Linked DNA regions of Homo sapiens. The protein of the gene in region 2 purifies or fractionates together with the protein of the main gene of each other region. This does not show direct contact. Each region holds a gene or a part of one and is shown on either strand. Other genes may lie near its edges. The genes, in order: AKAP11, DNA2, BORA and TARS3.

Region 1 (8,992 bases), on a different chromosome or scaffold from region 2:
CCACACGGTATGCTCTCAACAAATACTAATACCGTACCCTTGCATTGTGCCTGCCATATGCCAGACACTGTTTAATTGCTTTACATACATGAATTCATAATTCTCACCACAGAAGGTGCTATTATGCCCATTCTACGCATAGGAAAACTGAGTCATCAAGCATTTCAGTAATTTGCCTGAACTCCCACACCCAGGAGAATCTGTCCTGTAAAGAGACTACTGGTTAGATCTGGTTAGAACATTACCAAGCTGAGAGCAAGTTCAATGCAATGCCAGAGGAAGAACTCAAATTGCAGGATGTTAAAGCACACCTGAGGTATCCATCACTTCCTCCCTGTCCACTCTCCTTTTGTTAAATATGTTGGCATGGCCAGTTTAAAAGGAGCAGCCCTGCAAACTGTGAGACAAATCTAAGTCTCTTCCTCATCCATTTTTCCCATTCCTATCTTTCCTCACTCTCCAGCCAACTGTGCTAGAAGCAGAAACCTGACCAATTGGATTCTCTCTCTAGAAACATAACTGAGACTTGGAGATGTTTGCTGAGAACCATGTTGCATAGTCAGTGAGTCTGATGTTGGCATCATGGCAAACCAAAGTCTCATGCAAATCAAAGTTTTGGGGAAGTGGAAACCAAGAGCTTTAAAGAGAAGGCCAATCTGAAAGAAACTGGAACAGACCTGCGTGAGTAGCAGAGACATAAGACCATGTGCTTCCAGAGAAAAACTGGAAGAGTAACTGCCTGAAGACTTTCTGGTTCCCAAAACGCTGAATTGGAATCATGCAATGGACTTCAGCAGCACTGTATGACAAATGCTTTTTTTTTAAGTAGGCTAATTAAATTGGCTTTTTCTTCCTTGCAATCAAAGAATCCTCAAACCATTACGGGAGGTAAAAATAAAAACACTGAGTAAGCAGCTACTATGTGCTTCGCACTAACTTTTTGAGGTGGGTATGAAGAAAATGAGGCTCATTTAATTAATAGACCTGACTCCCAAACCGAAACTCTTTACAATATACCTCATTTTCAGTCAAGTAACATCCTCTCTGTTCCAGGCCTCTACCCCATTTATTTCCCAAGAAACATTCTCAGATTATTCTAAAAATGATAACTTTTCTCCTTTTACCATGTCCAGTCTCTAATCTACAAATTTCAAATGCCTTTACTCCAGAAGTTTTTTGTTGTTGTTTTTTGAGGCAGAGTCTCACTCAGTCGCCCAGGGTGGAGTGCAGTGGCACGATCTCGGCTCACTGCAATCTCCCATCTCTCAGGCTCAAGCGATTCTTGTGCCTCAGCCTCTCGACTAGATGGGATTACAGGCATGTGCCATAACACGTGGCTAATTTTTTATTTTTTAGTAAAGACAGGGTTTTTCCATGTTGGCCAGGCTGGTCTTGAACTCCTGGTCTCAAGTGATCCACCCGCCTCAGCCTCCTAAAGTCCTGGGATTACAAGTGTAAGGCACCAAGCCTGGCCCAGAAGTATTTTTTTAATAAACTTTTATATGTAAGGATGACTGGGAGAATCGAGACACTTGGATCTTTCCAGGCTGTTTTTAAACTGATAAAGCATTTTTCTTTCTCTTCCCCATATTACCAGCTCATTGACCCTTAACTCATGCCCAGGCTTAACTTAAAGCTTTTCTCGACCTGTCCTCACCCTTCAATCCTTCCAGGTAGTTGATTAATAAAATGCAGACCACAAGACAGGAAAAAAAACAAAATCAGTTACCCTATCCAAAGTTACTTCAATTACTTTTGAAAAACCAAACACCACACGCCCTACAAGTTTGAAACCCTTGCCAAAAGGTTATGAAGACCAGCCAAAAAATTTATTTTTCTACTTCTGAAAATTAGTTTGCTAAGATGGAGTAAGAAGGAATTTTTTCTAATCAACACTGGTCTCCTCTGCCCATTCACAAAGAGATATTTTCTAAGTCTTTCACATTTTTGTCACGTATAGACAGAATTCCTCTACCTATTTACAACTGGCATTTTCTCTTAAAACGGCCTTTAATATATTGTCCAAATTGGTTTGAGTTCCTTTTCCAGACAGTAAGTTCCTAAAATTAAAAAATAAAAAAATTAAAAGTACCGTATTTTTTCCAGCCTCTAAAGGCAAAAGAGGACTTCTTCAGCTTCTAGACTTATCCCTGGAGTTCAGGGGGCTAGAGAAGGCTAGAGAATTTCTCACTATGGTTCCATGTCTTAGGCAACTTCCCATATCCTCAACAACTGCAAAATATCACTGGCCTAGGAGTCCACTGCTAGGCCCTTATCAATATTGTCGATACTGCAGTTATGTGGGTACATACATTAGTCTCTAGCTCAGCTTGGGAACCCACTTCTTCCCTGATTTCCTTACATTCTTTGACCTTTCATAAATTACTGTTACAGCTACAATAGTGACATTCACTGTCCACCCCTGGGTCAGTTTTGTCAGGAGGAACAACGACAAGAAAAAATGAATAATCAGGGTACCGTTTGAAAAAGTAAATGTGTTTTTCAAAAAAAAAAAAAATCATTCAATTGCACTATTTTAACTGACACCAATCATGCCAGGCACTGGGCTGCCATCCTAAAATGATGACATTAAAAAAAATATATCTGTGCATTACTGATACCCCATTTTTTCTTAGTACTCCATATTTTGAGTATTTTCAGACATAACAAAATAACAATCGACATGACATTTCTAAAACAGTGGGAAGCAGCTAAGCAAAACGAGCATTTTGCAAGCGATTGAAAAGCTGAAAAGAGAACAGGAATTAACTCCAGTTTGTACTAAAGCTATTAGGTATGTATCTCAGCAGTCTTTCTCACCATGAAACTCCTTAACATCTAAAGCTAAACCACATCCAACTTTATATGGTTTTAGAAGACAGACAAAGCAGAGAAAAAAAATGAAAGCTGGTAATATGGGGAAGAGAAAAAATGTTAGCTTTTACTGTCATTGTCACTTTTTAATACTTCGGTTACATCTACATATTTTTTATAAAGCAGCTTAGATGCCTGGATTAACAGCAGTATACTCAATCCATTCGGGGTACTTTATGGCCAGCCTTAAGCCATTAACAGCCTAGGAGAGTATTTGACAGCAAATCCAAATATCAATACTCTGAGGAGCCCCTTGACGCCTTCCGTTTACAAGATCTGAGCAGCGCCTGCTTCCAAGGCTCCGGGGGTCTGACAGTGAAGGATGCTGTTCGGGAACAAAGTGCAACGTCCTCCCAACCGCTGCAAATGTTCCTGTGCGCACACCACGAACACACACTAAGCACGCGCACCACGCACCCGGGGGGCCGTCTCTGAAGACCACCCCGGGGATGGAAACAGCCTGTCATTAAAAGGGGCGGCAGCTCCACCGCCACACTTGGGACCCCAGGAAGACGCGTCTCGAGACCCAGCACCTCCCTCTACTCTGGGCCCGGTGCGGTGAGTTTCCTCCTTCGGCCGCGCTCCTCCCGCCCTCCTCCCTCCGCCATGCGAAGGCGCAGCTCTCGGGCGGCCCCGAAGCCAGAAGGGGGACCAGCGGCAGGCGGAGGGGCTGGAGCGCCGGAGCCGGGCCGCTCCATCCATGCCGGCCGCACACCCGCCGCCACCCCATCTAAACGCAGCCTCCGCGGCGAGCACGTCGGCGCCCGGCTCACCTGGGGGCCGCAGCCTCCGCAGCTCACAGACATGTCACCGGCCTCAACGACCCGTGAGCGAGCCGGGCAAGCAAGCTGGCCCCCTCCCGCGCTGACCCCCAGCCCTCCCCCTCCCAGCCCCGCGGCCCGCCCCCGCCCTGCCCACCCCTCGGCTTCCGCCGCCGCCGCCGCCGCCGCAGCTCCGGCCCGCAACACCGCCTACTCTCCACGCCTCCCACTCTCTCTCGCGAGAGGGCAGCGCGCCTCTCGCGAGAAAAATTCCGCGGCCGAGCCCGCGCAAAAGTGGGTGGGCGTTTAAAAAGGGAAAGAAGGAACAGGAAAAAAAGCCTTCCCACGTGCTCCAGTGCAGCCCGCGGAGCAGCCCGCGGGGCAGCCCCGCTGGTCACATGACTTAAAGGGGGCCTCTCCATTGGCCGGGACCCACTCAGCCTTGGGAGCTTTAAATTCGAGGGCGACCTACGAACCTGCGGCGGACGTCTTGCGCGCTTCCTGGTCCGTTGCCTTGGAAACGGCTTAACCCTTCCCTCTGGCAAGTCCCCAGGCCTTGGCTTGCTCCGCAGATTTGGTTTCAGGCTCTGCCTCTTTTCCCTCGACCCCTTAGTCTTAACAGCCTGGGGCCAGCTGGGCTCCTTCTTCGCCACAAGGCTAGTTTTGCTTTCTTCCGAAGCCCGGGGCCCTTCCCAAAGTGGCAGCCCCACCAGATCCGAAGGCCCAAGGAAGGCTCATCCTTTCTGATGGCTCCGCCCCTTCTCCCAGCATCTCCGGGGAGGACCACTCACAGCGCACCGGGCAACCAGCCCTATCCCAGCCAAGAAGTAGCTTCCAGGGTTCTCAGGGCCCTAGTGCTCACCCTGATGTCTTTACGTGGTATGGAAATCGGAAAGTAAAGCTTTGGTCACTGGGAAGCCTAGCCAGAGATGAAAAGCTGTTATGGTGATTATTTTCACCTAAAATCGGAAGGGCCAGTCCAGTCAAATTGCCCTGTCTCCTAAAGGGCATCTGTTCCTCAAGAGTGGAAACACCTGGCAATAAGAAAGACATTTTTGAGTGTATCCTCGTTATGAGTTAAGTTTTGCCCTGTTCAGAGGAGAGGGTCACGGAAGAAAGGGTGCATTCGTTTGTTCATTTCTTCATTCAACAAACACTACTCTAGGCTGTTGATTGAACAATGATGAAGACAAGTAGTGTAGATTCTAGGGAACTTATCTGAGGGTGAAAAGAAAAAAAATCTGTTGGTTTTAAGCTGTATGCAAAGAAGTTACAATAAGTGACGTGATGGTGATGGTGACTGAGTGGCTAGTAAAGGGGATGCCCTTTTAAGGAGGAGATATTTTAGCAGCGATTTGAATAACAGACGCAAAAATCAGAGCATAGAGCATTCCAGGAAAAGGATAACACTAATTCAAAGGCCCTAAGTAAGGATCTATTCTAGTGCATTTGAGGGAAGAAGAAATGAGAAAGTAAACTTTCTTGAGCCTGGAGATGGAAACTGTAAGAGTTAAAGAAAGAAACACAAAAAGCAGCTTAACAGAGACAGGTTTATTTTGGAGAATAAACCTGAGAGGGGCTTCTGGCCGATTTCGGTCAGGAGTGTTCTCTCTTACAGACTAAAGGTATTTAGTGGTTTAGGGAGGGAGAGCATATTGTAGACTTGGAATGTTTCTGGGTGGAGGAGAGTTTTATTGTCAGGGGTGTAATGTCTCTGGTTGGAGGGGAGGCATATTTCTGATCAGAGTGGGGTTTATCTCAGGGTTGGAAAGTTTCTGGTCAGAAGTGTTATTTGTGGTTTATGGTCATGCTGACATTAGCCATTAGGCTGATGTTTCTGGGGCTGGATTTAGGCGGTTTTTAATCAAGGGGAACTTAAAATGGCGGTGCTTGTCCAAGATGGTGATGCTCTTGCTCTGTCAGAAACTAGCATGGGCCAGATCCTGTAAGGCTTTGTTAGCCAAGAAAGGAATTGAAAGTTTATTCTAAACGCAATATAAGGTATTACAGAGTTTTTAATAGGGGAGAGACACCCAGAGTTTACTTTTTTTTAAAAAAAAAAAGTCTCGTCTTTGAAAAGAATGGGTCTTAAAGAGGCCAAAGCAGAAGTAAGGGAGATTAGGAGATTTATAGGCCAGGTGAGAGACAGTCATGAAATTTAATTTAATTTCCTATGATCTCAACATTTCTAAAATCCATTAGGTCAGAGTCCTCATGCTGTTTCTGCCTTTGTTGAAACATGTGGATTTCTCCTAATTACTAGGAAAAATAAAATGGAGGATTTTCTTTTGTTACCTGGGGGAAAACAAATGGCTGAAAAGGAAGGGCCCATCTTTAATTTTTTTCCCTCCATTATGCTACACTGACAACCACCTCTTCTGTCTATTCTTAAAGTCAATTCTGGGAACAGAAAATGAAATTCTACGCAGATACTTATTCTTTAGTGTAAGATTTGAAAAGATAGAGGTTGAAAGCTCAGAAATCAAGAGGATGTTTCACCAAAAGAAACGAATCAGGAGATGAGTTCCAACTCGAAGCTCTGTCATTAGTGATACAACCAAATCAAGGTTCCTTATCACCACTGAGTCTCAGCTTCCTCATACATAAAACAAAGCAATGTAACTAGCCTACACCTAAAGTAGTTAAGCCTGAATTACACTTTAACATGCACATACCAGTAGGACGGAAGCTGGAAAGGGAAATGAAATGATTTTTTATGAAAACCTAACAGAGTCAGCGGCTCAACCCAAATGAAATTAGACACACACACACCAGCTGAATAACTCTGAAAACGGTTGATACAGATACCAGGAATGCTTCCCTAAGAAACCTTGGCCTTCTCAGAGTGTGAAAACGGAAACACCGCCACCTGCTCAACCTCGAATTCCATCTCTCTTAAGCTATTTTGAACCTGTGTAGTATTAAATAATGATTCATGTGTTCCTAATCAGAGTTTAAGAACTAGATAGCAAATACATTTTTTAAAAGGTCTGAGGCAATATCCTAAAGTTAAGCTAACACCTTAATTTTAACGAAAGCAAGATTTCAAGATACATAGGGCTACTTTTTAAAAGGAAAAACGCCAAAAAGAGAAAAAGTACTATTTTAACAAAGTAGGACCATTCTTTTAAAATGTTAATTGAGTATTTTTTGAGTGTTTACAGCCCTCATAATGATTAACTGAAACAGCTGCTTGGTACTACTAATTTAGATGAACTCTGGGCCCAACTCTCCCAATCGAACATGTATTAACAGAGCCCGAAATAAATCCTCCCAACTCACCTTAGCAAGACAGTCATTGTGCTCTCTTGTGCTAGCTACAATTATTTGCAGTACATTAATACAAAGTGAGAAAAAATTAGGATTGAGATCCAGTTCTGCTGTGTCCCCAGTTCCTGGATTCTTTTTAAAACTGTGTTTTTTAACAGTTTTACTGAGATGTAATCCATTTACCATACAATTCAGTGCTTCTGGTAGATTTACAGTTGTGCAACTGTCATCAAAATCTAATTTTAGAAGTTTTGTTCCTCCCTAAAAGAAACTCACATACTCAGTAGCAGCCAATCAACTTTATGTCTATAAAGACTTGCCTATTCTGAAGGTGGAAACCATCATTCTAAGCAAACTATCACAAGGACAGAAAACCAAACACCGCATGTTCTCACTCATAGATGGGAGTTGAACAATGAGAACACATGGACACAGGACACAAGGCGGGGAACATCGCACACCGGGGCCTGTAGGGGGTTGGGGGGCTGGGGGAGGGATAGCATTAGGAGAAATACCTAATGTAAATGACAAGTTGATGGGTGCAGCAAACCAACATGGCACATGTATACCTCTGTAACATGTTGTGCACATGTACCTTAGAACTTAAAGTATAATAAAAATAAAATAAAAAATAAAAAAGACTTGCCTATTCTGGACAGTTCATATAAATGGAGTCATACAATACATGGTCTCTTGGGTCTCACTTCGTTCATTTAGCATGTGTTAAAGGATCATCCATGTTGAAGCGTGTATCAGTACTTCATTTATTTTTTATTGCCGAATAACAGTTCCATTCTATGTATATAGCACAGTTTTATTGGCCAACTTATCAGTTGACAGACAATTCAGTTGTTTCTACTTTTTGGCTATTATGAATAATACTGCTTTGAATATTCCTATACAAATTTTGTGTGGATGTTGCTGATTCTTTTTAATACTCTAAAAAATAGAAGACGTTCTATTTATCCCATTTACAGAGTTCATATTTCTCCTCCTAGCACCGTTCCTTTGCTTCCAGGATTTGTCTTTTTTGCCTGCTGGTTGAAGTATGTGCACTCTATCTCCAGAGGGCTGCCATTTCTACTGCATCTGACCATGCCATTCCCCTGCTTACAATCCTTCAGTGGCTTCTCATGGTTTTCCTCATAATCTGCTTTTCTCCTTTGCTTTCATATCATTCTCCCTTTCAGACTGTCCCCTTTTCAGTTCCTCAAAATAGGACCAGACCCTGCCTGCCTCATCACCTTCCACAGGCTGTTTCTTCAGGATCCAATATTCTTTCTCTGTCCATCCCTGTTAACAGCTGAATGCCCAAGAATCCTTCACCTTTCAACTCTACTGTCACTTCCTCAGGAACTTTCGTCCTAACTCCCCAGACTAAGTAAATCCCCTTTACTTAGGACTCCCTACTTTTTCTTCAACGCATTTATCAACTTATAACAATTTTTATTTGTGTGGTTACCTAGTTAATGTCTGTCTCCCTCCTCCACTGAACTGTGAGATCCATGAGCAAGGGCTGTTTCTGTTTTTGCTTAGGAGTTCCTAAGGCACATAGTAGGTACTCAATAACTATTCAAAAAAAGAGAAGCGGGGAAGGAGGGTGTCTTACCAGACTATTCTTTATTCTCTTTAATTTGTATTGTCAGGAGTCCTCAGTAAAGTCCTGATAAATGCTATAAGCCAAATCTGTGCTATGTTAAGGGAAATGAATGTCAAGGCATGTCCCATGCTTGGGATGTTGCAGCAGGGAGAAAACAGGTGTCCCCTGCTCATACTCCTCACAGAAACGGGGTAGGGAGAGGAGAGACCAGTGGTGTACAAAGGAGCCAGGGCAGCAGGGTGGCAAGTCAGGGAACACAGCCTGTGTCCAAGGGCACCCAAGAGGGTGCCTGGGAACCCCTGTGTGTCTCCTAGGGACATTTTAGTGGGCCAATTTCCAGCAATCAAATTGGTGGTGTCTCCTCCACTGTAATTTTCTAAGTTAATGGAAATATTTCTTTCATTTTTAGACATACTGTAATAGAAACAAGACATTTGGGTTATAGGCACATGAAAGAATTATGACCCAGCAAGGTTGAATGATTTAT
Region 2 (7,000 bases):
AGCTAATTCTGAATCTTCATCCTGTGGATTAATAAATTAGTCTGGTGAAACAGTGTGAGAAGAGAATACTATACTGGGCAAACCTGTTGCACAAACGTGTGATGTAGTGTGACATGGAGCATTCAGGATAATGCAGGTAATTACGTTATTTCTAGAATATAAAATATAAGGAAGAGAGTAATTAGATCAGGTCATAGAATGTCTTACGTATCATTTTAAAAAGTTTTCCATCCTGGGCCACATAGTGAGACCCCCATCTCTCCAAAAAATTAAAAAATTAGCCAGGTGTGGTGGTGTACACGTGTAGTCCCACCTACTCAGGGGGCTGCGGTGAGATAACAGCTTGAGCTCAGGAGTTCAAGGCTACAGTGAGCCATGATCATGCCACTGCACTCTAGCCTAGGCAACAGAACAAGGCCCTCTCTCAAAAGAAAAAAAGTTTAGATTTTATTTATTCTATTGAATAAATAGAATTGTATTGAAAGGTTTTAAACAGAAGAGTGGGTAATCATTGGATTTGCATTTTCCTCTGGCTACATTGTAGAGAATTGAGTTCATTAATGGAAGAAAAACTAAAAGCAAACCTGGAAGCTGTTGCAGTGACCCAGGCTAGAGGAAATTGAGGCAGGGTAGTGTTGGCAGAGAGAATGGAATGACTTTGAGAAGTATTTAGAAAGTAAAAGTGGCTGGCATTTGGATACTGATTGGGTGTGTGGGTTGGGGAGAGGATGAGGGAGAGGGAAGGATCAAGATGGCAGTGCAAATGCAAATGCCAATGCCATTAACTGTGATCAGGACCAGAGAAGGAGCATCAGGTTCAGCAGGGATGAGGAGGAGTTCTGCTTTGAAAGTACTGTGCTTTCACAGCCTGGGTTTAGCTAAGTGGAGAGATCTCACTGCCTACTAAATATCCAAACCCAAAGCTTGGGTGAGGAACCAGGTAGGAGAGGAGTGTGAGGTCAGGCCTAAAGATGGAATTTGGAATTTGGAGGCACGTGAGGGCCTGGGACCCTGGAGCAAACAATGAGAAAGAGTAGTACAATGAACCAGGGAAGGGACTCTAGGGAATACCAGAGCTTAAGGGACAGATAGAAGACAGGGAGAAGGTGGCAGAAAAGAAGCCTGCACTCCAGGTTAGAGGAAGGAAGAGCCATGCATTCAGGATCCCTCTGGGGATGGTGAACCCGTGTTCGACTGCAAGGGTAAATGAATTTTCAGCAAATGTTGCAGGTTCCCAATTATTAATTGCTTTGACCTTGGTGCCTTGGACCTTCCCCTTCCCTCTGCCTTTTCCCACCAATCCAGGGCCTCATGCTGTCCTTGATTGGCAAGTGTGACTGAGGGCTGGTAGCTATTTTAATAGCTATTCTGGCCCATTCATTCTTTTAGCAGATAGCAGCATATTTCTTATACAGACTATGCGAAATGGCGAGCATTCATGTATATTTGTTTTGTTGTTTTAGAAACTTGTCGGTCCTTCCAGAATCAACTTTGTTCAGATTAGACCAAGAAGAAAAAAATTGTGATATAGATACCCCATTAGGAAATCTTTCCAAATTGATGGAAAACACGTTTGTCAGGTTTGTAACAATGAGCAAATTTGAATTTCACTCCACTTTTCTAAGGAATATTACTAAAAGTGCTTTTTCACTTTTCAGCAAAAAACTTCGAGATTTAATTATTGACTTTCGTGAACCTCAGTTTATATCCTACCTTAGTTCTGTTCTTCCACATGATGCAAAGGATACAGTTGCCTGCATTCTAAAGGGTATGCTAAAATCACCATGTCTGCTTTGATTAATTTTTCTTGTTTCTATTTGATTTATACTGTAGTCTAATATCTTGATTAGACTTGCAACTACAATGTTTAGACCAAGACTCTTTGGAAATGGTTTTGTATTGAAGAATAGACTTGGATAGAGACTGCTTTTCTTATGAAATAATTAACTTTTCCTTTGAAATTCAACACTCTTTTTCCTGTTATTTTTGAATTTAAATGTAGGTTTGAATAAGCCTCAGAGGCAAGCGATGAAAAAGGTACTTCTTTCAAAAGACTACACACTCATCGTGGGTATGCCTGGGACAGGAAAAACAACTACGATATGTACTCTCGTAAGGTTATTATTCTTCTGCTTAGAGACAAAATATTTGTATCAGCTTCTCCTCAGTTCAGAGGATGTAATATTGAATATCAAAAGGGCTGAATTTTAATTCAGTGTCTTTGTTTCAAATGAACTTTTTAGAATGATGAGAAATAGTAAAGCTGAAGCACAAACAGTTGTAATCATGTAGATTTCTCGCATTTAGAATTTTCTAAGATCGCTTTCCGTTAGTGGTATGTGATATTTATCACTATATGTTTTCCTTTCCCTTTAAAGATGATGTTAGAGGCCGGGCGTTGTGGCTTACGCCTGTAATCCCAGCACTTTAGGAGGCCAAGGCGGGCGGATCACTTGAGGTCAGGAGTTCAAGACCAGCCTGGCCAACATGGTGAAACCCCCTCTCTACTAAAAATACAAAAATTAGCCGGGCGTAGTGGCATGCGCCTATAATCCTAGCTTTACTCGGGAGGCTGAGGCAGGAGAATCACTTGAACCCAGGAGGCAGAGGTTGTAGTGAGCTGAGATCACGCCATTGCATTCCAATCTGGACAACAAGAGCAAAACTCCATCCTAAAAAAAAAAGATGTTAGAGATTTTTCTTGGATTTTTTTTTTCATGTCAGTAAATTTCTTTTTTTCTTTTCTTTTTCTTTTTTTTTTTTGAGATGGAGTCTTGTTAACGTGAGCCAGGCGAGGTGGATCATGCCTGTAATCCTAGCACTTTGGGAGTCCAAGTCAGGGGGATTGGTATTTGAGACCAGGTTGGAATGCAGTGGCATGATCACAGTTCATGCAGTCTCAATCTCCTGGGCTGAAACAGTCCTCGTTCCTAAGCCTCCCAAGTAGCTGGGACCACAGGGGCGCACCACCTCATTTGGCTAATTAAAAAAAGAATTTTTTAAAAAGAGATGGCATCTCACTTTGTTGCCCAGGCAAGTCTTGAATTTCTGGGTTCAAGTGATCCACTTGCCTCAGCCTCCCAAAGTGCTGGGATTACAAGTGTGAGCCACCATGCCTGGCCTATGATGTATTATTGACATATTATTAATAACGTATAATAATGTCATGTAATTTTTGTAAAATGTTTTGGCTTCATAATTTTTACTTGGCTCAGCTCTTAGATATGGTTCTTGTTAAGTTTATAAACATGTTAAAAATTATCTGGAATTAAAAGTAAGGCTGTTTTTTCTTTTTTCTCTTACCCATTATTAGGTAAGAATTCTCTACGCCTGTGGTTTTAGCGTTTTGTTGACCAGCTATACACACTCTGCTGTTGACAATATTCTTTTGAAGTTAGCCAAGTTTAAAATAGGATTTTTGCGTTTGGGTCAGATTCAGAAGGTTCATCCAGCTATCCAGCAATTTACAGAGCAAGAAATTTGCAGATCAAAGTCCATTAAATCCTTAGCTCTTCTAGAAGAACTCTACAATAGTCAAGTAAGCACAATTATTGTATAATAATACTAACAGTTAATGTCCACAGCCAGAATGAGGGGAGAAACTGTACTCTGGGAAATTTAGTCACATTGACTGGATTTGCACATGATTAATTTATATGTACTATACGACCAGTTTATTAACTTATAGTTTGCTATTTCCTTCTGATCTGAAATAAGGTTTTGGGTTTATTATTTAGGGCTCTCTTCTAGTTTCAAATATCCTAGGAAACTACTAATAATCAGGGTTTCAGCCAGGTGCGATGGCTTACGCTTGTAATCCCAGCACTTTGGGAGGCTGAGGTGGGTGGATCATGAGGTCAAGAGTTCAAGACCAGCCTGGCCAACATGGTGAAAACCTGTCTCTACTAAAAATACAAAAAAAATTAGCCGGGCGTGGTGGTGGGCGCCTGTAATTCCAGCTACTTGGGAGGCTGAGGCACGGAGAATCGTTTGAACCTGGGAGGCGGAGGTTGCAGTGAGCAGAGATCGCGCCACTGCACTCCAGCCTAGGTGACAATGCAAGACTCCAGCTCAAAAAAAAAAAAAAAAAATCCGGGTTTTTTAGTAAGTTTGAATTAGAAACAATGGTACTTAATAGTCTTGTGATAACTATCTCTAGGCTTTTATATAGAATCTAATTTTTATTTTATTTTGTTATTTAATGTTTATTTATACTGGGAGTTCTTAACAGATTTTTTTTTCTTTTTTTTTTTTTTTTTTTTGAGATGGAGTCTTGCTCTGTCACCCAGGCTGGAGTGCAGTGGCGCGATCCTGGCTCACTGCAAGCTTCGCCTCCTGGGTTCACACCATTTTCCTGCCTCAGCCTTCCGAGTAGCTGGGACTACAGGCACCCGCCACCACGCCTGACTAATTTTTTTTTTTTTTTTTTGAGACGGAGTTTTATTCTTGTTGCCCAGGCTGGAGTGCAATGGCGCCATCTCAGCTCACAGCAGCCTCTGCCTCCCGGATTCAAGCGATTCTCCTGCTTCAGCCTCCTAAGTAGCTGGGATTACAGGCATGCCTGACCACGTCCTGCTAATTTCGTATTTTTAGTAGAGACAGGGTTTCTCCGTGTTGGTCAGGCTGGTCTCGCACTCCCAACCTCAGGTTATCCTCCTGCCTCGGCCTCCCAAAGTGCCAGGATTATAGGCGTGAACTACTGCGCCCGGCTTTTTTTTTTTTTTTTTAATTGAACCTTCCACCAAGTAGCTGGGATTATGGGCGCGGCTATAGTGCCTGGCTTAACTGATATTTTTGTCTTTAAAAAATTTCCCAAAGATTAGATTTAATAGAGTGTTCCTTTACCTCCTTTGTCTAATGCTAGCATATTTTTGTCTAATATCTGTCCCTGTTATTGATAAATTTAGAACTGGCTAAGATGTATATCTGGTTAACATTTTTATTAAATTAAACATTTTACTTTGAGGTAATTGTAGAGTCACATGCAGTTGTAAGAAATACTAGAGAGAGCCTGTGTCCCCTTTATCCAGTGGTGACATCTTGCAAGTCTGTAGTACAATGTCACACCCAGGATGTTGACATTGATACAGTCCCTATTCTATTACCACAAGATTCCTCATGTTGCACTTTTATAGTTGTATCCACTCTCCTGCCTTACCCCTCCTTAACCTCTGACAGCCATGACTCTGAGACTCTGATCTCCATTTCGATAATTTGGTCGTTCGAGAATGTTAAGTAAATGCAATAGCCTTTTGGGATTGGTGTTTTTTACTTAGCCTGATTCTCCAGAGCTTCCCCCAGATAGTTGTACGTATTAATAGTTTGTTCCTTTTTGTTGCCAAGTATTTTTCCATAGCATGGATGTACTGCATTGTGTTTAACCATTCACCCTCTGAAAATCTGGATTGTTTCCAGTTTTTGGATATTGTGAATAAAGCTGCTGTAAACAATCATGTTACAGGTTTTTGCGTAACATAAGTCTTCATTTCCCTGGGATAAATTCCCAGTAGTACAATTTCTGGATTGATTGGTAGTTGCATGTTCATTTTTTTTTTTTAATCTGCCAAACTGTTTTTCTAAGCAGGAACATTTCACGTGTATGAGTGATCTCCTCAGCATTTGGTGGCGATACAATTTTTTTTTATTTTGAGACGGAGTCTCGCTTTGTCCCCCAGGCTGGAGTGCAGTGGTGCAATCTTGGCTCACTGCAAGCTCCGCCTTCCAGCTCATGCCATTCTCCTGCCTCAGCCTCCCGAGTAGCTGGGACTACAGGCGCCTGCCACCACGCCCAGCTAATTCTTTGTATTTTTACTAGAGATGGGGTTTCATCATGTTAGCCAGGATGGTCTCAATCTCCTGACCTTGTGATCTGCCTGTCTCGGCCTCCTAAAGTGTTGGGATTACAGGCGTGAGCCACTGTGCCGGGCTTTTTTTTTTTTCTGAGATGGAGTTTGGCTCTGGCGCCCAGGCTGGAGTGCAGTGGTGCGATCTGAGCTCACTGCAACCTTTGCCTCCCAGGTTCAAGCAATTCTCCTGCCTCAGCCTCCTGAGTAGCTAGGATTACAGGCATGCGCCACCACGCCTGGCTAATTTTTTATATTTTTAGTAGTGACGAGGTTTCACCATGTTGGCCAGGCTGGTCTTGAGCTCCCGACCTCGTGATCCACCCGCCTTGGCCTCCCAAAGTGCTGGGATTAGAGGCATGAGCCACCGTGCCCAGCTGATACTATTTTTAATTTTAGCCATTTTGGTAGGTGTTTGGAGATTTTAATTTGCATTTACCCAGTTAAAATGTGTGTGTGTGTGTGTGTGTGTGTGTGTGTTTGAGACAAGGTCTTGCTCTGTTGCCCAGGCTGGAGTGCACTGGTGAGACCACGCCTCACTGCAGCCCTGACCTTCTGGGCTCAAGTGATCTTTCTGCCTCAGCCTCCTGAGTAACTAGAACTATACAGGCATGTACCACCATGCCTGCCTAATATTTTCAATTTTTTTATGTTGTCCAGGCTGGTCTTGAACTCTTGGGTTCAAATGATCCTCCCACCTCTGTCTGCCTCCCAAAGTGTTGGGATTACAGATGTGAGCCACTGCATCCAGCCATAATGTGGTGGGGTTTTTTTTTTGTTTTTGACACGTTATTGCCCAGGCTGGAGTGCAGTGGTGTGAACTCGGCTTACTGCAACCTCTGCCTCCCAGGTTCAAGTGATTCTCCTGCCTCAGCCTCCCAAGTAGCTGGGATTACAGGCATGCGCCACATATTTTTTTTTTTTAGTAGAGACGGGGTTTCACCATGTTGTCCAGGCTAGTCTCGAACTCTTGACCTCAGGTGATCCACCTGCCTCAGCCTCCCAAAGTGCTGGGATTACAGGCTTGAGCCACCACACCTGGCCCATAATGAGTTTTTCATGTGCTTATTTGTCATCTGTATCTCTTCTTCATGTTTTTGCCCATTTTGGATTATATGCTTTGTAGTGTTGAGTTTTGAGAATTTTTAAAATGTATA
Region 3 (6,618 bases), on a different chromosome or scaffold from region 2:
CTCTTCTTTAAATGGGGATAATAATAGGATTACAGGATATTAGCATGATCATTGTGATTAATATAAGTAAACAGTGCCTGAACACTGTTGGTGGGAATATGAATTAGTACAGCTATTATGGAAGTTCCTCAAAAAACTAAAAATAGAACTACCATGTGATCCAGCAATCCCACTAGTAGGTATATATCCAAAGGAAAGGAAATCAGTATGTCAAAGAGATACCTGTACTCCAGTGTTTATTGCTGCACTATTCATAATAGCCAGAATATGGAATCACCCTAAGTGTCCACTAATAGATGAATGGATAAAGAAAATGTGGTATATATACACAATGGAATACTATTCAGCCATAAAAAATAATGAAGTCCTTACATTTGCAGCAACATGGATGAACTGGAGGACATTAAGTGAAATAAGCCAGGCACAGAAAGATAAATACCACATGTACTCCCTCATGTGGAAGCTAAAAAGGTTGATTTCATAGAAGAGTATAGAATAGTGGTAGGTAGTAGAGGATGGGAAGGGTAGGGGGAGCAGGGATAGGGAGAGGTTGGTTAATGGATACAAAAGTACAGCTCGATAGGAGTAATTCTAGTGTTCTATAGCTCTATACGGTGAGTGTAATTAACAATTTATCGTATATTTTCAAATAGCTTGAAGAGCAGATTTTGAAAGTTCCCAACGCAATGATAAATGTTTGAGTTAATGGATATGCTAATTACCCCAATTTGATCATTACATATTGTAAACATATCAAAATATCATGTACATCATAAATATGTGTAATTGTGTGTCAGTTTAAAATAATAATAAAAGCAAAAACATAAGTAGTAATGGAAGGCAAGGTCCTTTGAATGGTAACAAACAAGGGGGACTGAGAATGATGAGGGAAGGGCTAAAGTGCTGGGCCCAGATGTCAAGGAATGTTATCACAGGGCACAACTGTTGCCAATTGAAAGTTTTAAAAGACAATGACATCTGATTTATGTGGTAGAAAAATAAATTTAGTAACAAAGTGCATGTTAAATGACTGACATAGAGACACCATTTAAAGGCACCATGACCCAACTGGAATATAAAGTTTGCAATTAGAACCAAGTTTGAATTAGAGTTCTTTTATTTCCAGGCTGTGGGATCTTAAGGCAAGATTTACATAGCAGTGAATAGAACATGACTTTTTAATTTTTGTCCCCTCATCCTTCTTAGCTATAAAGTGAGATTGATGCCTGCCTTGATGCCTGTGGGGGATAACAAGGTATCTGTTGCCTGGTTGGTACATATTAGGCATTGACATTAGCAGAAGTCTAGATGAGAGACAGTGAAGTCAGCCACCATCTCAACTTGGCTCTCATCAATCCTGCTCTTCCCATAGTGTGGGACAAACTCCCCGCATGCCTTACTTCCTGCTGTACTAATGAGTAACTCTTCCCTCCATATATATCCAGTTACATATTAGTATTGCATTATAAGCCAGCTATTTGGCAGTGATGAATATTAGAAGGAAGAGCTATTGGCAGAATCTCTGGGAGCAATCTGACATTTATATTTTTGATCAAGTAGCTATTGAATGATAGCAGAACAAGGCTTTTCCCCAAAAATGTTACACATCACAAGGCTTTTGTTCTAATTGGAACATGACCTCTAGTAGTAAGCAGATATGTATCCAGCCTTGAAATCTGGGAACATTTTTTCAGGATTATTAAGTGATAAAGAGTGCCGTTTCTAGGCTAGTCTGTACCTTTGTGAGGGAAACAAAATGACAGTCAGCTTTTTCCTTCCCTCTGATCCTAACTTGCAGGGAGGGCTTAAATGCAAAATGATTCCCTTGTGGATTGCTTTCTTTGGTGCTCAGCATTATACAGGTAAATGGAGCGTTGTGCAGTGAACAGAACCTGGACTTAGGTCTCACATCTTCATCACCTCATCACTGGATGACATTGTGAAAGTTAAGCTTTTTAAGCCTTAATTTCCTTCTCTAGTAAAGTATTAGGGTTGTTGAAAGGAGAAAAAAATATTAAATATATAGAGATAGTGCCTGGCCTTTTTAGACACTCAATAAATGTTTCCAAGCTGGAAGTTCGCTAGAATCTTTCTTTTTTGCTCTTTTGCACTGAAACAGTGTATCTTAGGATGCTACAATTTTTATTAACATGAAAAGCTGAACTAACATCTAGAGCCATTATATATGTGGCATTATTGTGAACAACTAGGTGTAAATATAATATAATCCACTTTTTTAAAGGCAGCATGCCTCAAGCCATTTAGAGACAAGCCTGGAAAATGCGTTGGAAGGTGAAGTTAGTTGTAATACTCATTTTTGTCTACTAGGTACGATCACAAAATAACAGGAAAGCATTGTGTCAGTAGGCTGTTCACTGATTCTTAAGGAAGTTACAAGATATATTTCATTGGAAGGAATTGTAAAATGACTACAATAATCAGTACTATGCAGGACTACCTTTTATATTTGTGCATTACTTTTGAATTTTGTTCAACATGATCAATATTACATGTTAGGATCATTCAGATGTAGTGAATGAGAGTTTATAGTGGTTTACTTATTTAAATATTTGACTTTTAAGTTCCTCACAATATATTTTTTTCTTTTTTCTCCTGTCAGATGGATAGTGGCTATAATACGCAGAATTGTGGAAGCAATATTATGGATACAGTTGGGGCAGAAAGTTACTGCAAAGAAAGTGATGCACAAACATGTGAAGTTGAGAGTAAATCTCAAGCATTTAATATGAAGGTACGGAGAAAATATAGTGAAAGCTTAATATTGTTTAGATTAGAAATATAAAATAATTTTGATTATTAGACAATAGTACTATTGAGAAACTATATGAAATTTAAAACACTAAAAGGTAAGCCTGTTTTCTTAACATCCAATAACCTTTAAATATTTTGGTTACTCTGAATACACAAGTATCTTACATACTACAAAGTGTGCAAAGGTAGCGTGTATTTGATGAGGGCATTTACTGAACCTTCCAGGTGGTGGTTATATATTCATACTTGAAGAAACTCATCATAATTTCAGGCACTAGTCAGGACAGTCTTTAATTTTATGTGCCAATTTTTTTTGCATTTTATTTTTTTGTAGAGACAGGGCCTGCTGTGTTGCCCAGGCTGGTCTCAAACTCCTGGTGTCAAGCAGTCTTTCTGCCTCAGCCTCGCAAAGTGCTGCGCGATTACAGGCATGAGCCAACATGCCCAGCCTTGTATGCCGTTTCTTTTTTTTCTTTTTTTTTTTTTTTGAGACAGGGTCTTACTCTGTCACCCGGGCTGGAGTGCAGTCGTAGAATCAGATCACTACAGCCTTTAACTGCTGGGCTCAAGCAATCCTCCTGCCTCACCCTCCTGAGTAGCTAGAACTACAGGTGTGAACCACCTTGCCCTGCTGTTATATGCCAGTTTCTTATAAAATACTATAAATATCAGCAAATGTGCAACAAATGTTTAATAGGGAGGCCACCTTAGTTTTCCTTTCTGTTGTATGTAGTAGGAGCAAACTGCCTTTCTGTTGTATGTAGTATCAGAGCAGGTCTCTTCTAATATTAACCTGAACAAAATCCATCCTATTTCAGGATGCAGTTGTCTATCTAAACATAAGTAGAGATAAATGAAGGATTTTTTTAAATTTTATTATTTTATTTTTTTTGAGACAAGGTCTCATTCTGTCACCCAGGCTAGAGTGTAGTGGCACGACCACAGCTCACTGTAGCCTTCACCTCCCAGACTCAAGCAGTCTTACCACCTCAGCCTCCTGAGTAGCTAGGGCTACAGGCATGTGCCACCACACCCAGCTTTTTAAAATTTTTGGTAGAGACAGGGTCTCACTATGTTGCCAGGGCTAGTCCCAAACTCCTGGGCTCGTGCGATCCTCCCACCTTGGCCTCTCAAAGTGTTGGGATGCTTTTTGATGCAGAATATTGATTTATAAAATACTGTATCTTTACTGTCCCTTCAGAGTTCAGCTAAAGAAACGTGCTTTTAGGTTTTAAAAACAGTCCCGATAATTGCATCCTCCAGTGGTCCTACTTAAACTGAAAACAAGGTATTGTCTTCTTTTTCACAGCAAGACCACACAACACAGAGGTGTTGGATGAAAACAGCAAGCCCTTTTCAATGCAGCAGTCCATAGAATGCCTCTGTCAGAATCAAAGACTAAGCTTAAGAGTTCCTCGCATATATCGTTGTGCACAGGATCAACATGATGGTGACTGGGAAAAAATTACTTCAAGTAACATGCTTAGCTTTCCCTCCTTAATGTGAAAAATCAAGGGCTTACTGACATAGGAACAACAGAAATGCTCCTGGAACTTCAAGTTGCTGAATTATAAGTTTATTTTTTATCAATAAATATTTTTATACTTACATTGAGTGATGTGTTTAACAACAAATTGTGACAGAGCTGAGTGCTCCTATCTTACAGGGTCAATGAACTACTTATTAAGCCTTACTGGTAGCACTGAATTTAGCAGTTCTGAGAACATGTGAAACTATGTTAAAACTGAAGGCACTATATATTTTTACATAAAAGCTTGAACATACAGATGAATTATAACCTATGTGAAGAAATCTTAGATATAAAACTAACTTTTCAAAGATACAAAAGAAATTAAACAGGTTTCCTGAAATTTTAGTTCTTGGTCTGTTCACCTCTGTGGGGAAAATTCTTAGTTCCAGTGATAACTGTTCTAGTTACTACTTTTAAGTATGTAAATACTAGAAAGGTAGTACTAGTGACATCATCACGTGTATTGTTATCTATGGGGCAAATGTGTGGTGCCCAGAATAAAATATACCTCATGCCTAGGGTAGGGACATCCTTTCCAGCTCAAACGTGGGTAGGGATGTGGGAGAATAAGAATGTGGGAGAACCAAGAGAAAAAGTGGGGCTGGGAGAGTGGAGTTCCCGTAGGGCATAGGCCTGTGAAGTAACACTGGGGCAGATATGTATGTTATATACAACTATTTTTTTAAAAAACTTATATCCATGTTGGGAGTAGATGGGTATATAACAGTTTGGAAATACTATCTTTGGAGAATGTATTTTTGTATTTATAAATCAACTTTTAAAAACTGTCTCATTCAAAAGGGAATAAAGACCTGTGTTATCAATGTGTCATTTTCTTCTTTCCTCCATAACTGTACCTTGAAACCTTACTGCTGACCTGCAGAAAATGTGCCGCGTTATGTACCTGGCTCATCTTCAACACACTAACCATGAACACTAATAGCCATTAGGGGACATGGCTACAGATACTACATTGGAAAGTTGTCTTTAATCACACAGGTGTTAAACTCAATATAAATTTACCTAAAAACAATTGCTATACCTAAAAGGAGTTCTGGGTACTAAGGGTAGAAGCCTCACTGGCTACAGTTTTTTAATAGTACAAAAGTCAAGAAATAACACAATAGTGACTATAACCTGTATTCAAATCCCTACTCTGTCACTACTTGATCTGGGCTGATATGGTATGGCTCTGTGTCCTCACCCAAATCTAACCTTGAATTGTAGCAATCCCCACGTGTCAAGGGTGGGACCAGGTGGAGGTAACTGGATCATGGGGGCGGTTTCCTCCATGCTGTTCCTGTGATAGTGAGCCGGTCTCATGAGATCTGAAGGTTTTATAAGCGTCTGGCATTTCCACTGCTGGCAGTCATTTTCATCCTGCCGCCCTGTGAAAAAGGTGCCTGCTTCTCCTTTTTCTGCCATGATTGTGTAAGTGTCCTGAGGCCTCACCAGCAATGCGGAACTGAGTCCATTAAACCTCTTTCCTTTATAATAATTACCCAGTTTGGGGTATTTCTTCGTAGCAGTGTGAGAACAGACCATAAACCTCCATTTTCTCATCTGTTAAATGGAGATAACAGTCCTGGCTTAACAGGGCTTTTTGAGTTAAGTGATATATTCCACGTAACCTGCTTAGCATAAGAACTGGCACTAGAAACAGAACATTTTAGATTATGGAATAGAACTTAGGGGAAAATAGCAAAGTCTCTGATCATCTTGAACTACTCAATTGGGACTTATCCCTGAATTAAACCTTTCTAGTAGCTGAAGCACAAGAAAATAAACTTGGAAAGAAAAAACCTAAGGCCAGTCATGCACTGCCCTACTTCCCTTTCTTCTCTATTGCAGGTTAACTATGGCCTGTAGGCAGTTTTTCTTCTCTTTTTTTTTTTTTGAGACAGTCTTGTTCTGTCACCCAGGCTGGAGTGCAGTGGCGCGATCTTGGCTCACTGCAACCTCTGCCTCCCAGGTTCAAGCGATTCTCCTGCCTCAGCCTCCTGAGGTGGGATTAAAGGCACTTGCCACCACACCTGGCTAATTTTCTTTTCTTTTTTTTTTTTTTTTTTTGCGATGGAGTCTCACTCTCATCATCCAGGCTGAACTGCAGTGGTGCAATCTCGGCTCACTGCAACTTCCGCCTCCCAGGTTCAAGCGATTCTCCTGCCTCAGCCTCCCAAGTAGCTGGGATTACAGGCATCCGCCGTTACACCCAGCTAAGTTTTTGTATTTTTAGTAGAGACGGCGTTTTACCATGTTGGCCAGGCTGGTCTCAAACTCCTGACATCGAGTGATCCACCCGCCTCGTCCTCCCA
Region 4 (8,844 bases), on a different chromosome or scaffold from region 2:
TCACCTAAATTCAACAATATTTATAATCCCATATAAAATGCTGCCTTTTTCTCTTTTCTGTGGGAGTTTTCTGTTAACTTTTGTTTCAGATTTTAACCTAGAGTAACCTGTGTAAAACAGTAACTTTCTCTTTATATTTTTTTGACCAACGTACTTAAATATATTCCTGATTTTATGTTTTAAAACATACATATTGGAGAAAACATACATTTTGTTTTTTATTTTTTGGGTTTTTTTTTTTTTTTTTTTTTTTTTTTTCAGACAGAGTCTCTCTTTGCCTCCCAGGCTAGAGTGCAGTGGCACTATCTTGGCTCACTACTATCTTGGCTCACTGCAACCTCCGCCTCCTGGATTCAAGCAATTCTCGTGTCTCAGTCCCTCAGCTGGGACTACAGGCATGTGCCACCGTGCCTGACTAATTTTTCTATCCTTTTAGTAGAGACAAAGTTTTGCCATGTTGGCCAGGCTGGTCTTGAATTCCTGACCTCAAGTGATCTACCCCCCTCAGCCTCCTAAAGTGCTGGGATTACAGGCGTGAGCCACCACGCCCAACCAAAAACATGTACTTTGAAAACACAGTATTATCAGTTTTGTGGGCTTGAATAAAAAAATAGAGTTGGTTTTGGTAAAAAATTGCAGTATTCTTTTTTGTGCAGTAAAATATATAACATATAAAATTTACCATTTAATCCTAAGTATACAGTTCTGTGGCATTAAGTACATTGACAATGTTGTCAAACCATCACCAATCTCCAAAGCTTTTTATCTTGCCAGTCAGAAACTCTATACCCATTAAACATTAGCTCCCCATTCCCGCCCTGCCCCCAGCCCCTGGCCACCACCATTCTACTCTCCGTCTCTGAATTTGGTTCCTCCAGGCACTTCATATCAGTGGAATCATGACAATATTTATCCTTTTGTGACTGGCTTGTTTCACTCAGCAAAAAGTCCTCAAGATTCATCCATATTTTAATATTTTAATGTGTGTCAGAATGTCCTTCCTTTATAAGGTTGGATAATATTCCATTGTACGGATAGACCACATTTTGTTGATCCATTCATCCACCTGTAAACACTTGGGTTGCTTCTGCCTTTTGGCTACTATTGTGAACAGCGCTGCTGTGAACATGGGTGTGTAAAGTTCTGTTTGAGTCTCTGCTTTACTTCTTTTGGGAATATACTTAGAAGGGGAATTTCTGGATCCTATGGCAATTCTGTTTTTAAGTTTTCGAGAACTCGCCATACCGTTTGGTGCAGTGGCTACACCATTTTACAGTCCCACCAGTGATGCACAGGGGGTTCAGTTTTTCCACATCCTTGCCAACACTTGTTTTGTTTTTTTTTTAATCATGGACATCCTAATGGTTGTGAAGTGGTATCTCATTGGGGTTTTGTTTTGACTTGCATTTCTCTGATGACGTACTAATGGTGAGCATCTTAATGTGCTTATTGGCCATTTGTGTATTTTCTTGAAGAAATGTCTTTGGAGAAATGTCTGTTGAGCTCTTTTGCCCATTTTTTAATTAGGTTTTTTTGTATTTGAGTTATAAGAGTTCTTGATATATTCTGGATATCCATTTCTTAACAGATATGTGATTTGCAAATATTTAATTCTGTGGGTTGCCTTTTTTGCAGCTACTTTTAAGAACTAAACACAATTAATCTTTGTTAAGGAAAATGATTTGTTGTGAATATATAGATACGAAACAGTTAAATCATGCAGATACGGGTTTTTCTCCCAACAACTAGCTTCTTTAAGTAGTTATTTAATATAAAGTGCCTTGTATACCCCGATAGTAGTGATGGAAGCAGAAAAGAAAGGAAAAGGAAAAAAACCCTTAGTTTTATAAATATATCATCATTACGATAAACTTTGCTTTTGTTTTTATACAAATTAATAATATAGCTGTGTCCTTGTCAGAATTTTATTGATTAATGTTAAAATTAGATCTTCTAGAACAGTACTGTCCAATAGAAACATAATGGAATCCACTAGTCTGAGCTACATGTGTAACCTATAATTTTATGGCAGCTACATTTTAAAAGTAAAAGTTGCAATTAATTTTAACAAATTTTTAACCCAATATATAAAAAGTATAATTTCAATGGTAGCCAGTATAAAGAATGATTAACGAATGATTTTCTTCTTCTTTTTGCAACATTATACTTCCAAAGTCCAGTGTGTTTTATACTCACTGCACATCTTCTTTCAAATTAGTGGCATTTGAGGCCAGGTGTGGTGGCTCACACCTGTAATCCCAGTACTTTGGGAGGCCAAGGCAGGCGGATCACTAGAGGTCAGGAGTTTGAGACCAGCCTGGCCAACATAGTGAAACCCTGTCTCTACTAAAAATACAAAAATTAGCACATAGTAAAAATACAAAAATACAATACAGGCATGGTGGTACATGCCTGTAATTCCAGCTACACGGGAGGCTGAGGCAGAATCGCTTGAACCAGGGAGACGGACGTTGCAGTGAGCCAAGATGGTGGCACTGCACCCTAGCCTGGGTGAGGGAGTGAGACTCTGTCTCAAAAACAACAACAACAACCACAAATTAATGGCATTTGAAATGCCCAGTAGCCACGTGGCTTGTGGCCTCCATGCTGCACGGTGTCGCTCAAGGCTGTGAGCTCTTTGTATCCCTCGTGTCTCAGCACCTAGAACATCAGTAGATGACCTTTCAATGTTTCTTGAAGAAAAGTAGAGTTGTTTTCTTCATTTCAACATTGTGTGTAATAATGTGTAAATATGTTTTTCTTCGTAGTACAATAAATTTAAATGCCGCATTCTGAATGAGAAAGTTAACACTGCAACTACCACCGTGTACAGGTTTGTGTCCACACATGGTAAACGCTGCTCAGTGGTAAACTTGAAGGTGTTAGCAGTAGAGGCCGAGTTTGTTTTCTGGTTGGAGATCGATTTTTCAAGTTGTGTAGTTGATAATCTACCGTAGTTACAATCTTCAAAATGTTTTCACTAAAGAGAAATGATTATTTTCCCCTTTTTAGTAATCAGGACAGTACTGAGACCCATATTTTGTTTCCTGGGTGTTAGCTATAACAGGATTTTTCTCCATGTGAGTGATACTGTTGGGAAAGGAGTTTCTATTCTGTCCTTCCACGTTCTTATTAATGTGGCAGTGGGGGCCATTACAAGCCATCTCCTCGGCAGTGATTCTCTGCCTCATACTTACTGTCCAGAGTGCAAGTGTAGAAGAGTCTGCCCCATTGTCCAGAGTCCAAGTGTACAGTCTTCATGCATTAGCAGGATACTCATGATGAGACCAAAAGAAAATACTGGGAAACAAAGGCAGGATCAAATGTAAGAGGAGACAAGTGAAGTTAATACCAGAATCACTTAGCTCTGTTCATTTAACCTCAGGTTCCTGAGCACCTTTTTCTTTATTCGTGTGTATACGCCTTATATGTCATTGCTGTTCCCCTTTCCGTGTGTTCCGGCCATCTGGGTGCTGCTAGGACTATCACAGTACCGCCTTAGAAGACCTGGTATTTATTTAATTATAACCACAGATATTCTCCCTCATGGTACTTACTTTCGACAGTCAAGGACTTATGGTTCTCTGGTTTAATTGTACTGTAAGTAAAATCATATCCCCTTTGTGCAAAGCTATGCACGGTGCATTTCTTAAAGCTTAAAAATAAATGAAAATGTAGAAAACAGGCCAAGTTTTAAATTTCTGGCTTCTAATGCTTGAGCTCTTGGGTTTGAGAACCTTACTTACGTCAACATTGACACTTTTTGTAGTTTTTCAATTTGAATGGCTTGTATTTAATTTTTGAAAAAAAAATAAAGCTTTTCTTTTATGGCTTTCTTTTTTTTTTTTTTTTTAATTTTTTGAGATGGAGTCTTGCACTGTTGCCCGGGCTGGAGTGCGATGGCGCGACCTCGGTTCACCGCAACCTCTGCCTCCCAGGTTCAAGTGATTCTCCTGCCTCAGCCTCCCAAGTAGCTGGGATTACAGGCGCCCACCACCACGCCCAGCTAATTTTTTATATTTTTTATTAGAGACAGGGTTTCACTATGTTGGCGAGGCTGGTCTCGAATGCCTGACCTCGTGATCCACCCGCCTCGGCCTCCCAAAGTGCTGGGATTACAGGTGTGAGCCACCACACCCGGCCCTGTGACTTTCTATGTAAAGATTAGAGTATTGAAGCCTTTCATGCTAATTTGGCATTCCTTCCCTTCATCTGAGTGTTGTTTACAAGCTCTCTCCCTAGAGAACAATACACAAAGACTGACCATTGAGAGAGATGACATTTTCGTGTTTGCCACTCTGTAAGCCAGTCCCTTTTTGTATTCATTGTAATTTTTAAGTTTTTAATCAGAGAATTGCCTAGTTTCTTTCAGAAGATGTTCTGTGGTTTTTGAATCTAGAGGGCAGAGTGGACTCTGAGGCTAGATGAATCACCTCTCTCCTTCACCCTAAATTAAAAATGGCATTGCTACATATAAATAAGTGAAGCTCTACCTAAAACATAGGATATTATGGCTTATAATGAATAGTCCAGAACACTGTAACTGTGCCTGAGCATGTCCTAAATATTTCATTATAGGTGCGGTCCATTAATTGACCTTTGCAAAGGTCCACATGTAAGACACACTGGAAAAATTAAAACCATCAAAATTTTTAAGGTAAGGATTGATTTTTTTTTAATACAGTAAACTTAAGGTGCACTAGCTATTAAAGGATTTTAATCATATCTTATTCAATCATATCTTTTGTAGTCTGAACATCATGATATTTTAAAATATTTCATTCTTATTTGATGAAAACTAATAAAATCATTTAGAATTTTGATAATTAGAACACTATAGGTGGCTTTTGTTTATCATTTTACCTTATTGTAAGTGTTATAACATTTCTTTTTCATACGATATTTTATTTTATTTTTTATTTTTCTGAGACAGAGTCTTGCTCTGTTGTCCAGGCTGGAGTGCAGTGGTGTGATCTTGGCTCACTGCAATCTCCGCCTCCTGGGTTCAAGCGATTCTCCTGCCCCAGCCTCCTGAGGAGCTGTGATTACAGGCCTGCACCACCCCACCCGGCTAATTTTTCTATTTTTAGTCGAGATGGGGTTTTACCACATTGGTCAGGCTGGTCTCGAACTCCTAACCTCAGGTGATCCGCCTGCCTCAGCCTCCCGAAGTGCTGGGATTATAGGCATGAGCCACTGCGCCTGGCCTTTTTCATACACTATTTTAAAATATTGTTCTATATACTATGGTTTTCTTGAATAGCCCTGATGTAAGCAAGAATATTTGTCTGCATGTGAAAGTAATGTATTGCGGCATAAAGAAAACAGCAGGAGGGGATATGATGTTGTAATGGAGAAAACATCGCTCTGGGATTAGGAGGCATGGGACTGACTTGGCAGTCCCAGCCTTTCTTGGCTTTGATTTTCTTACAGGTAAAATGGGGCTGGCTAATGGCACTGTTCTTAATCATTGACTGTAGGTCAGCAAGACCGACCTTTACTTCCCCATACCTACTGTCTGTTCTGCCCCATCCTTGGTGATTATGATTGCTGCTTAGCCTTCCCTCCTTTCTGTGTGCTCTCACTGTCATTCCTAGAATCCATAGCAGACTCTACATAATTTGCTGGTTAATGGTATAATTTAGGCTGGGAAGGTTTAGTTAGAATCCATTTTAAGATTGTTCCCAGCACTACAAATAGTCTTCTTTAAGCTTTGTTGATTTTGTTTGTTTGTTTGTTTGATTTTGAGACAAGGTCTTGCATTGTCACCCAGGTTGGAGTGCAGTGGCACAAACACTGCTCACTGCAGCCTCGACCTCCTGGGCTCAAACAGTCCTCCTGCCCCAGTCTCCCAAGTAGCTGGGATTACAGGCATGTGCCATCGTGCCTGGCTAGTTTTTGTATTTTCTGTACAGATGGGGTTTTGCCACGTTGTCCAGGCGAGTCTCAAACTCCTGAGCTCAAATGATCTAACCACCTTGGCCTCCCAAAGTGCTGGGATTATAGGCATGAGCCACCATGCAGGGCTGCTTTGTTGATATGATAGTGGAAAATTGCATTTGTATTTAAGAGCAGTTTTACTTACAACTGAATGTATGATATATTTACCAAAATCCTCTTTGATATTTAGAATTCCTCAACATATTGGGAGGGCAATCCGGAAATGGAAACATTGCAGAGGATCTATGGAATATCCTTTCCTGATAACAAGATGATGAGAGACTGGGAAAAGTTCCAAGAGGAAGCAAAGAACCGAGATCACAGGAAGATCGGGAAGGTATGCCCCACATCTTAATCACTGGAGATGTAATCATAAGCCAACATAGGAATGTTTCTGTCTCACAAAACTAAGTTGCTTTAAAAATAAGATTTCTTCTTCTTCTCTCCTATTTTGCTGGCACTCACAGTCCGCTGCTCAGTGCTTTCATTTTAATACCCCAGATGTCTTCTAACCTCTTTCCTTCCTGTATCTTTTATTAATTTTTGAAAATTGTACCCTTCTCTTATTTTTGTCATGATAAAAAATAAAGTTGTTTTTGGTGAAACCCCACCTCTACTAGAAATACAAAAAAATTAGCCAGGCGTGGCAGCACGCGCTTGTAGTCCCAGCTACTCTGGAAGCTGAGGCAGGAGAATCACTTGGGCCCGGCAGGCGGAGGTTGCAGTGAGCTGAGATCGCTCCACTGCACTCCAGCCTGGGCGACAGAGTGAGACTCAGTCTCAAAAAAAAAAAGAGTTGTTTTTTACATTCTGTGCACTTTATAGCATCCTTTGTATCTGGGAGACAGAGCAGCGTGTAGAAGGAAAAGCTCAGACTGGAAAGCAGCTCGGCCTGAGCTTTATGCCCAGTCCTTGTACTCACTAGTTGTGTTAGATGATGGGCAAGCTCCGTGTCCTTGTCTTCCTTGCTGGGTAGCCTTGCAGGGTGGCTGTGAAGACAGAAACTGGGTGACGGTGCCTGGTACAGGATAGGCTCTCAGTAGGCAGCAGCCATGATGATCATCATCACCTAAAGCCCACCTCCTGCAATGAACTTTTTTGGTCTTTCTACCGTGTTGTCTCCCCATGAGTGCCGTACTCCAAGTGTGCCAAGTAAGAAAATTCGCAGAGAATAGCAGAAGGTGAAGTAAAAGCTAAGTTCAAAGCTAATTAGGCATAAATATGATTGGAAATTTTACATATGCTGTTGCATGCATTTAGGTATAAGTGTTGAATGGCCTTGGAATGTCTATTACTAGAGAAGATGGAAATAACTGAGTATTATATGTGTGTGCAGTAAATATTAAGCAATAGCAGATGACATTTGAAATGCAATTTTTGTTTCAATCTAGGAACAAGAACTTTTCTTTTTCCACGATTTGAGTCCTGGAAGCTGTTTTTTCCTTCCCAGAGGAGCCTTCATTTATAATACGCTTACAGATTTCATACGAGTAAGTTAACTTTAAAATGTTTTATTCTTATTCAATTCCAGTTTACATTTTTACTATTTTCTCTCATAATAAAGTGGTCAAGCGTTTCCATTAACTTTACTTTGGTAACATTAATAAGAATTTTGAGGTTAAAAGTGAGATACTGGCCAGACACGGTGGCTCACACCTATAATCCCAGCACTTTGGGAGGCCAAGGTGGGCAGATCACCTGAGGTCAGGAGTTCGAGACCAGCCTGGCCAACATGGTGAAACCCTGTCTCTACTAAAAATACAAAAATTAGCCGAGTGTGGTGGTGCACACCTGTAATCCCAGCTACTTGGGAGGCTGGCAGGAGAATTGCTTGAACCCGGGAGGCAGAGTTTGCAGTGAGCCAGGATTGTGCCACTGCGCTCCAGCCTGGTGACAGAGCAAGACTCCATCTCAAAGAAAAAAAAAAAAAAAGTGAGGTACTAGATTGTACCTTCTAATAATAACATGGAGATAATTTCTGTTTCCCCTGAATACATTCCTGGATTTCATAAAATTCACTTTTTGTCCATATAAGTTTCTAAACCATGTAGAATATAAAGGTAAGCATTAGACTAAGTGTGGCACTCCCTGTGAAAAAGAAGAAAGGAGAAAGTGTCGTCTCTGGTACAGAGTGTTAAGCCATGAAGCATTGCTTCTCCAAATGTGCTCCATGGGCCACTGATGCTTCCCTTTGCCTATAGCATGACTCCCAGGTGATTTGGCAGTTCCAGAGGAAAGAGGAAAAAACCAACAGTGCAAAATACCTACTTGTATTACAAGTTCATAGGTGGGAAAGTCTTTAGTATTTACATGATAAGGACTGTGTAGATAGTGTTCACAGGTGATCCGGGTGGACTACTGGGATTACATTTCCATGCTTGCACTGTTTTGTCTTTCCTATAATCATTACCTAAATTTTTCATTTACTTAGTTTTTTTATGTGCCTACCACTAATTCATGCTCCAATTTCTCTCAAAAACTACAAATCTCCTTGCAACATATTCTGCAATGATTCAGGTAATTGCTCAGTAATTTTTTTTTTCAAATTTGGTCCTACTCCAGAATTAACTTGCTACTAAGATTCTTGCAAACTGATGGCTTAGGACTTCTTTTCATCATCATCTTGGCCACTCCCCTCATGTCTCTTCCTATGCTGAGTCTCTTTTCCTGGTCCCTGTATATCTCTTCGTTGCTTATCTTTAATTCTCATTTGGGGATCACTTTCTTCAGTAACTTTCTGAGAAGACAATCCATGGCATGTGGCCTGCACTGGTTATTCTCTGTTTGCTTCTCCAGTCTTGTTCTCCGTCTTTTTCTTCTTGTGCTGTGCCCCTGGAGGCTGACATGTCTGTATTCTATCACCTGGGGTACACATCTTCCAGTAGGGACTGGCCAATGCGAGGC

Evidence for each region.
Region 1: the proteins of DNA2 (region 2) and AKAP11 purify together in Homo sapiens (affinity purification with mass spectrometry; 2 studies listed by BioGRID and IntAct, with this or other methods). This does not show direct contact.
Region 3: the proteins of DNA2 (region 2) and BORA purify together in Homo sapiens (affinity purification with mass spectrometry; 2 studies listed by BioGRID and IntAct, with this or other methods). This does not show direct contact.
Region 4: the proteins of DNA2 (region 2) and TARS3 purify together in Homo sapiens (affinity purification with mass spectrometry; 2 studies listed by BioGRID and IntAct, with this or other methods). This does not show direct contact.

Annotation. Positions count from the first base shown.
Region 1 is NC_000013.11:42,266,884-42,275,875, reverse strand, and holds the start of AKAP11 (A-kinase anchor protein 11), read right to left. Parts: upstream 3,725-8,992; 5' UTR 3,648-3,724; exon of another isoform or gene 3,115-3,647; intron 1-3,114. UniProt on the Homo sapiens protein: Binds to type II regulatory subunits of protein kinase A and anchors/targets them.
Region 2 is NC_000010.11:68,426,974-68,433,973, reverse strand, and holds part of DNA2 (DNA replication ATP-dependent helicase/nuclease DNA2), read left to right. Parts: intron 1-1,463; coding exon 1,464-1,580; intron 1,581-1,658; coding exon 1,659-1,768; intron 1,769-2,002; coding exon 2,003-2,112; exon of another isoform or gene 2,113-2,117; intron 2,118-3,313; coding exon 3,314-3,538; intron 3,539-7,000. UniProt on the Homo sapiens protein: Key enzyme involved in DNA replication and DNA repair in nucleus and mitochondrion.
Region 3 is NC_000013.11:72,751,070-72,757,687, forward strand, and holds the end of BORA (protein aurora borealis), read left to right. Parts: intron 1-1,099; exon of another isoform or gene 1,100-2,620; coding exon 2,621-2,752; exon of another isoform or gene 2,753-4,081; coding exon 4,082-4,147; 3' UTR 4,148-5,127; downstream 5,128-6,618. UniProt on the Homo sapiens protein: Required for the activation of AURKA at the onset of mitosis.
Region 4 is NC_000015.10:101,699,672-101,708,515, reverse strand, and holds part of TARS3 (threonine--tRNA ligase 2, cytoplasmic), read left to right. Parts: intron 1-2,768; coding exon 2,769-2,833; intron 2,834-4,578; coding exon 4,579-4,657; intron 4,658-6,130; coding exon 6,131-6,277; intron 6,278-7,331; coding exon 7,332-7,430; intron 7,431-8,844. UniProt on the Homo sapiens protein: Catalyzes the attachment of threonine to tRNA(Thr) in a two-step reaction: threonine is first activated by ATP to form Thr-AMP and then transferred to the acceptor end of tRNA(Thr).